Homo sapiens: one gene and its partner. The protein of the gene in region 1 interacts with the protein of each later gene in a biochemical or structural test. Each region holds a gene or a part of one and is shown in the gene's direction. Other genes may lie near its edges. The genes, in order: POLL and UBE2H.

What was found.
Region 2: of the proteins of POLL (region 1) and UBE2H, one has a biochemical effect on the other in vitro, tested with the Homo sapiens proteins (one study listed by BioGRID).

What each region holds. Positions count from the first base shown.
Region 1 is NC_000010.11:101,581,654-101,585,408, reverse strand, and holds part of POLL (DNA polymerase lambda), read left to right. Parts: coding exon 1-93; intron 94-489; coding exon 490-807; coding exon of another isoform or gene 808-973; exon of another isoform or gene 974-1,059; intron 1,060-1,727; coding exon 1,728-1,901; intron 1,902-2,517; coding exon 2,518-2,646; intron 2,647-3,755.
Region 2 is NC_000007.14:129,841,324-129,845,140, reverse strand, and holds part of UBE2H (ubiquitin-conjugating enzyme E2 H), read left to right. Parts: intron 1-3,817. UniProt on the Homo sapiens protein: Accepts ubiquitin from the E1 complex and catalyzes its covalent attachment to other proteins. E2 ubiquitin conjugating enzyme that transfers ubiquitin to MAEA, a core component of the CTLH E3 ubiquitin-protein ligase complex.

The sequences.
Region 1 (3,755 bases):
CTGCTTCAGACAGCCCTTTCTCCTCCTCCTCCTCCCACCAGGCCTGTGTCTCCTCCCCAAAAGGCAAAAGAGGCACCAAACACCCAAGCCCAGGTCAGGAGCCTCCCATCCCTCAGAACTCCCTTCCCCTAGGAAGCAGATCACAGAAATGGGGTGGGCCTGGTGGCTGTTCAGAAAGTCCCAGGCCCCTGAGAGAGGAGGGCTCTATTGTGAAGCCATTTAGCTCTTCCCAACACTCATCACTGCTGCATTTATCTAGGCCATATCTAACACATACCACTGGGGATCCTAGGGCTAGGCACTGCGTGGAGCCAAAGGGAACGTGGCCTCACACCCAAGGAGATCCAAGTCTGATGCAGAAGGCCCCGCCTCATTCTTAGGTCTGACTAGAAGACCCTCCCCCCGCACAAAGAAGATGACCCCCACCTTTAAGGATCCCTTCTCTTGGAGAACAAGAATTTATTGTTTTCTTTTCTTCTCTATCCCAAGCCCATCTCTGATGATGAAGCCAGTGATGGGGAAGAAACCCAGGTTAGTGCAGCTGATCTGGAAGCCCTCATCAGTGGCCACTACCCCACCTCCCTTGAGGGAGATTGTGAGCCTAGCCCAGCCCCTGCTGTCCTGGATAAGTGGGTCTGTGCACAGCCCTCAAGCCAGAAGGCGACCAATCACAACCTCCATATCACAGAGAAGCTGGAAGTTCTGGCCAAAGCCTACAGTGTTCAGGGAGACAAGTGGAGGGCCCTGGGCTATGCCAAGGCCATCAATGCCCTCAAGAGCTTCCATAAGCCTGTCACCTCGTACCAGGTACCCAGGGGCTAGAGTGGGAGGAGGGGTCTTTACTGGCCAGTGGTTAGTAACCCCAGTGGGGTTCAGGTACAGTGGTGAAGATTTTATGGGGTCTAGGACTTGCACAAAAGAAAAAAAAGGAAAATTGATGAAAGCAGATTGGCAAAATCTTGATAGTTGTTGAAGCTGGGAGATGTACGATACTTGGGGGTTATATGGATCTCTCTACTTTTGAATTTTTTAACATAATTAAAAGTTTTTTATTTTTAATTTTGTTTATTTATTTATTTATTCATTTATTTAGCAGAGATGGTGTTTTGCCGTGTTACCCAGGCTGGTCTTGAACTCCTGGGCTCAAGCAATCTACCCTCGGCTCAGCCCTGCAAAGTGCTGGGATTACAGCCATGAGCCCTTGTGTCCCGCCTAAAAAGTTGTTTAAAAGAAGTTTGGACTCTGAAGCCTAACAGACCAGGGTTTGAACTCTGGTTCCTGTCATTCACTAACTGTGTGACTCCAGACAAGTTACTTAAACTCTCAAAGCATCAGTTTTCTCATTAGTAAAAAGGGGCTACTATTAAATGAAATGGTCCCTGTAGCACAGGACCTGACATAGAGTAAGCCCTCAGTAAATGTTAGCTCTTGCTGTTGGAATGATGATGATGGTGGTGGTGGTGGTGGTGACTAATATCATCATTATTTTCTACTTCTTACTGCTGGTCTCCATCCTTCTGGGAACCAAAAGACAAATTACCCAGCCCTCATTCTATCCAAAATTCTCATCTTCAACTACACCCAAGCTTTACACAGCCACACAGTTGCCAAGCAGCCAGGCTGGCTTTTATGTCAGCATCTGCTAGAGGAGTCAGCTTCCTTTCCACTGGCTCTACCTCTTCCATCTCCTCACTCTTCTTTCTTGCCTCTGCCTCCTCCTCCTCTAGGAGGCCTGCAGTATCCCTGGGATTGGGAAGCGGATGGCTGAGAAAATCATAGAGATCCTGGAGAGCGGGCATTTGCGGAAGCTGGACCATATCAGTGAGAGCGTGCCTGTCTTGGAGCTCTTCTCCAACATCTGGGGAGCTGGGACCAAGACTGCCCAGATGTGGTACCAACAGGTCACACCCTGGCTCAGCCCCTACTTCAGTTTTGCTGTGTCTCAGAGTTCCTGCCCCAGATGTGTGCTGTGCTCTGCCCCAGATCCCTATGCTGTGCTCTGATGGGAATGCACCCACAGTATAGGGAGACCATTTTTCAAGCGGACCAGGACTCATATAGACCCCTCAGCTCCCAGAACAGCCTTGTTGCTTGGTATCCTTAAGAAGGAGTAGACAGGGACAAGAAGTATGTTTCTCAGTCTCCCCAGACCAGCAAGGGCCTTCCTGAGGAGGCCAGGCCTTGACACTGCGTGTCTAGAGCAGTGGTTCCCAATCCTGGCTCTGCCCACAATCACCAGGGCAGCTTGGTAAGGATGAAGATGACAAGGTCCATCCTCAGACTGATGGAATCATGAACGAGCATCTTAGGATAGTGGCAGGGCTGGATGATGGCATGTTTCCCATGCTCCCTGCCTTTCCCAAGTCCTGCTGAGTACAGACCCAACTGCCCCTAGGTTGGTCCTGCCTCTAGCCTTCCCTAGAGTCTGGGGCGATGGAAGCCTTGTGTGTGTGCTCACTCATGCCTCTTCATTGGTCCTGGATCCTTACAGCTTCCCATCTGGCTGCTTTTTTCCAGGGCTTCCGAAGTCTGGAAGACATCCGCAGCCAGGCCTCCCTGACAACCCAGCAGGCCATCGGCCTGAAGCATTACAGTGACTTCCTGGAACGTATGCCCAGGGAGGAGGCTACAGAGATTGAGCAGACAGTAAGCAGGTGTCCCAGAGCAGTGAGGACAGCCAGGTCCTGCTGTAAGGTCTTGGGTCAAAGCCAAGAACCCCCAACTCCTCAGCTGGGGAGGACAGCAGGCAGAGGAAACTGTGGATCACCAGAGGTTGAGCACAGAGCAAGTTAAGACTGAAGCTCCAGGCCCAGAGGTGGGGGTGGGGAGCTTTGGGAGGAAAGAGCTGTAACACCAGCCCTCTAGATTCTGGTTCTCAGTAGTCAGGCCTATTAGGATTGGATTCAATTCTAGACTGATTGGTGTTAGGATTGGGTTAATGTTAGGGTTAGATTACAGGTGAATTATATCTGTACTGAGGTTAGGGTGGGTCAGGGCAGAGGGTTTTAATATTTTATTTTATCTTTTTTTTTTATTTCACCAACTTCTTTGAGAACCTGATGAAAACTGTGGACTGTTTTCTCCCCAAAATGCACAAATGTGCAAAGGTTTATGTCTTTTTCCAGATGTATGGACCTTCTAAAGCCCACGCAAGGCTGGCTCAGGATTTGGGGTAGAGTTGGTGTAAAAGCACAGTGTCAGTAGGATTTGGTTTGGGGCTGGAAGAAAGCTCCATCAAGATGGAGTTAAGACCAGGCACAGTGGCTTATGCCTTTAATCCCAGCACATTGGGAGAACAGGGTGGACAGATCATCTGAGCTCAGGAGCTCGAGACCAGCCTGGCCAACGTGGTGAAACCCTGTCTCTATAAAACATACAAAAATTTCCAGCCTGGCAAACATGGCGAAACCCCGTCTCTACTAAAAATACAAAAAAGTTAGGCGGGTGCCGTGGCTCATGCCTATAATCCCAGTTTCTTGGGAGGCTGAGGTGGGAGATTTGCTTGAACCTGGGAGGCGGAGGTTGCAGCGAGCCAAGATTGTGCCACTGCACTCTAGCCTGGGCAACAGAGCAAGACTCTGTCTGAAAAAAAAAAAAAGATTGAGTTAAAGTTAGGCTTTAATTAGGCGTAGGATTTTCTTAATGTTGGTTGCTTTTAAGTTAAGATTTGTAGTTGTCCAAGAAATAAGATTTGGGTTTGGTTTAGAGTTGGGTTAGCGATTAGGTTCATGTAAAAGCTAGATTAGAGAGACACT
Region 2 (3,817 bases), on another chromosome or scaffold:
AGTTGTTTATGATTTGGGAGTCTCACTCCATTGCCCAGGCTGGAGTGCAGTGGTACAATCTCAGCTCACTACAACCTCTGCCTCCCAGGTTCAAGCAATTCTCCTGCCTCAGCCTCCCAAGTAGCTGGGATTACAGGTGCCCACCACCACGCCTGGCTAATTTTTTGTATTTTTAGTAGAGACAGGGTTTTGCCACGTTGGCCAGGCTGGTGTGAAACTCCTGACCTCAGGCAGTCCACCTGCCTCGGCCTCCCAAAGTGCTAGGATTACAGGCATGAGCCACTGTGCCCAGCCTGTTTTTAAATAGTAAATATGAATATAAATTATATGCCTAAACTGAGATATGAGTGTTATAATTTTAACATTAATGTAAGATCAGACTGAAGAGTCAGTGCTAATGAACCACATTTTGGTTCTAATTGAGTCTAAGGCAAAAGTAAGAGCTGTTTGCTCATCATAAACCATATACTCAGGAATCTTGGGACTTCCTTTAAAAGTTAAGACAGGCGGAAATGGGGTCGGCTGACTGTACTCTACAGGTTTAGGTCAACTGTATCTGGCTCTCTTCCTTTAAAAAAATTGAAGGTTAATGTTTTTAGATAAAGATCTTTGAACTGACACATTTTTATCGTTATTATTATCGACACATTTTTATCGTTTTATCATTAACAAAAATCTAGGGAAAAAGTGTTCTTTATTTTTCTACAGATGAGTATCTTTATTTTATTCTTGATTTATAGTTTTAGTCTTCTCTGCCAGTGTATTTATCTTGAAAGAAGACTTTCTGCACATCTGCACATTTGAGAGATGCTCCTTTCAGAAGCACCCTTAGGAGTAATCACTGTGTTAGCCACTTGCAGGAAGGCCTTATTGCTTTAAGATGGCAGAGCCATCACATCCTGGCCTCCCGAAGTTGTCATCTTCACCCAAAACTGGGCCTCATGTGTTTCCTTTTCTGCTCTTCTGTTTTACAGGTGTGACTCAGCACTTCTGTAAAATGGATCAAAAATGTGTTAATGCAGGAAGACGGTAGATACAGGAAGGAAGAACCAATAATTAAGGGTTCTTTTATTTGTTTGGAACAAATTCATAGGCAAAGCCTTTTATTGGTAGCTTGAGGAAACTTAAAAGTAGTAGGAAAGGGTATAAAATCTCTTTCTGGGACACGCTAAACTCCTAGTTTTATAACACGTTGTCTGTGATATTTCTCTAGCCCTGAAGCACTTCTGAACATTACTTCAGAACATAAAACCTATGCTTTGTTTTTAAAGGTTTTCGTTGTTATGTAATAGCATCCAGCTGCTAATCCTTTTGAGCAGCACCTGTAATAATAATATGGCAGGAGGAGCCTTCCGTTCGCTGTGTGCAGGTGTCTGCGGGTTACCTCCTGCGGTGGAGCTGCATGAAAACAAGCACACCGTCTCTGTGAATAGCCACAGAAACATCTGAACGTCCTTTGCTTAGCATGCTTCTTTGCACTTGTGAGGGATTCTTTGGGGAGGAGGGTGATCATCTCTGATCCATGGATTTAGCTTCCCTGCCAGCGATGGTATGCGATTTTGACCCAGAGACATGGGGAGCTTGTGCCTTCGTGAAATTTGCGGCAGCGGCAGTGTGTGTTTTATCCATTAACAGAGGCAGCATAGTGGATGAGCTCAGGTTTGAGTTCCTGATCCATACTTAAGCTCTGTGTGCCTCAATTTCTCCATCTGTAAAATGGTGCCTACCTCATTGACTGTAGTGAAATTAAGAGTGTATATGCAGACCATGGAAGAGTTCCTTGCTTGTAGTAAGCACTATGTAAGCATTAACCTGCCATTACTGTTAATATTACTGTTAATGGGCCGGGCGCAGTGGCTCACTCCTGTAATTCCAGCACTTTGGGAGGCCGAGGCGGGCAGATCACGAGGTCAGGAGATCGAGACCATCCTGGCTAACACGGTGAAACCCCTTCTCTGCTAAAAATACAAAAAAATTAGCTGGATGTGGCGGCGTGTGCCTGTAGTCCTAGCTGCTGGGGAGACTGAGGCAGGAGAATGGCGTGAACCCAGGAGGCGGAGCTTGCAGTGAGTGGAGATCACACTACTGCACCCCAGCCTGGTTGACAGCAAGACTCTGTCTCAAAAAAAAAAAAAAAAAAAAATTACTGTTAATGTAACTATTGTTTAACTTTTCCCTGCTATGGGATCACATTCAATTGTAAAACTACTGTTTTTTGTTTTTATTTTTGTTTTTTTGAGATAGAGTTTTGCTCTTGTTGCACAGGCTGCGGTGCAATGGCGCAGTCTGGGCTCACTGCAAACTCCACCTCCTGGGTTCAAGCAATTCTCCTGCCTCAGCCTCCCAAGTAGCTGGGATTACAGGCACCTGCCACCACACCCAGCTAATTTTTGTATTTTTAGTAGAAACGGGATTTCACCGTGTTGGCCAAGCTGGTCTCAAACTCCTGACCTCAGGTGATCTGCCCATCTCAGCCTCCCAAAGTGTTGGGATTACAGTTGTAAGCCACTGCGTCTGGCCTGTAAAACTGAATTTGCTTACCTTTTGGCATTTTCTACCACTGCCTTAATAACTCACCCACCCAAGGATAAAGATAAGAAAATAAAAACATTTTCAGACTTTTCATGTTTTATTGGATATTTCAAACATATGCCAAAATAGAAAGGACATATTTACAGGAAAATGTTATTTTTATTTTATTTATTTATTTGAGACAGGGTTCCACTCACTTGCCCAGGCTGGAGTACTGTGGTGCAATCTTGGCTCACTGCAACCTCCACCTCCCCAGGTTCAAGCAATTCTGCCTCAGCCTCCCAAGTAGCTGGGACTACAGGCACGCGCCATCACACCCAGCTAATTTTTTGTATTTTTTAGTAGGGACAGGGTTTTGCCATGTTGGCCAGGCTGGTCTCGAACTCCTGGCCTTATGTGATCCACCCACCTTGGCCTACCAAAGTGCTGGGATTACAGGTGTGAGCCAAAAATGTTGATTTTTAAAGGCAAAAGAAATGTCATTTGAAATGTGAAAAGTAGAAGTTACACATCTATTGCCTTGAGGTAGCTTTTTAAAATGTTTGTCTTATGCATACACACTGTACATAGTTGTAATTCTAGAAAACATACCATTTTATGGCCTTTCTCTACCCAGCATTCAAGTATAAGCATTTTTTTCATTGAAAACAAATAGTTTTCAATGGTTTTGTACCATAATAATTGTTTCCCTTTTTAAAAAAATTGTAGATAAAACATTGGTGAAAATCTTACTGCAGATAGTTTGGGGGTTATATAGGAAGGTGATTTTTGTTTTGCTTTTTTGATTAGGAGTGTCAGGATTTCTTTCGTGGTACATGAGAACCTTACTATAAAGTGGCTCTTTAGGACCGTTCTGAAGTCAGCCTTATGAAGGTGAAATAGACTCTGATGAAATCACCCCAAGTCTGTGGCTTTTGTTGTAAGGCAGAGCTGCTCTGTGTCAATACCTGGTGTGTGAGAACAGGACGTGGTAGCTGTCATGGGACCCTCTAGCCCATCATTCTCTAGACCTGCACTGTCCAATACAGGATCTACTAGCCATGTGTGGTTATTTAAATTTAATTAGAATTAAATAAACTGAAAATTAATTTCCTTATTCACACTGGCCATATTTTGAGTGCTCAGTAGCCACTTATGGCTAGTGGCTATTGGTTTAGGTGAGCACATATAAAACATTTTTATCACTGCAGAAAGTTCGGTTGAGTAACACAGCTCTAGATTAGTCTCTAACTGCTCAGCTTCTTAACCTTACAGTGATAAGAGCCACCTCTTATAGGTAAGATTT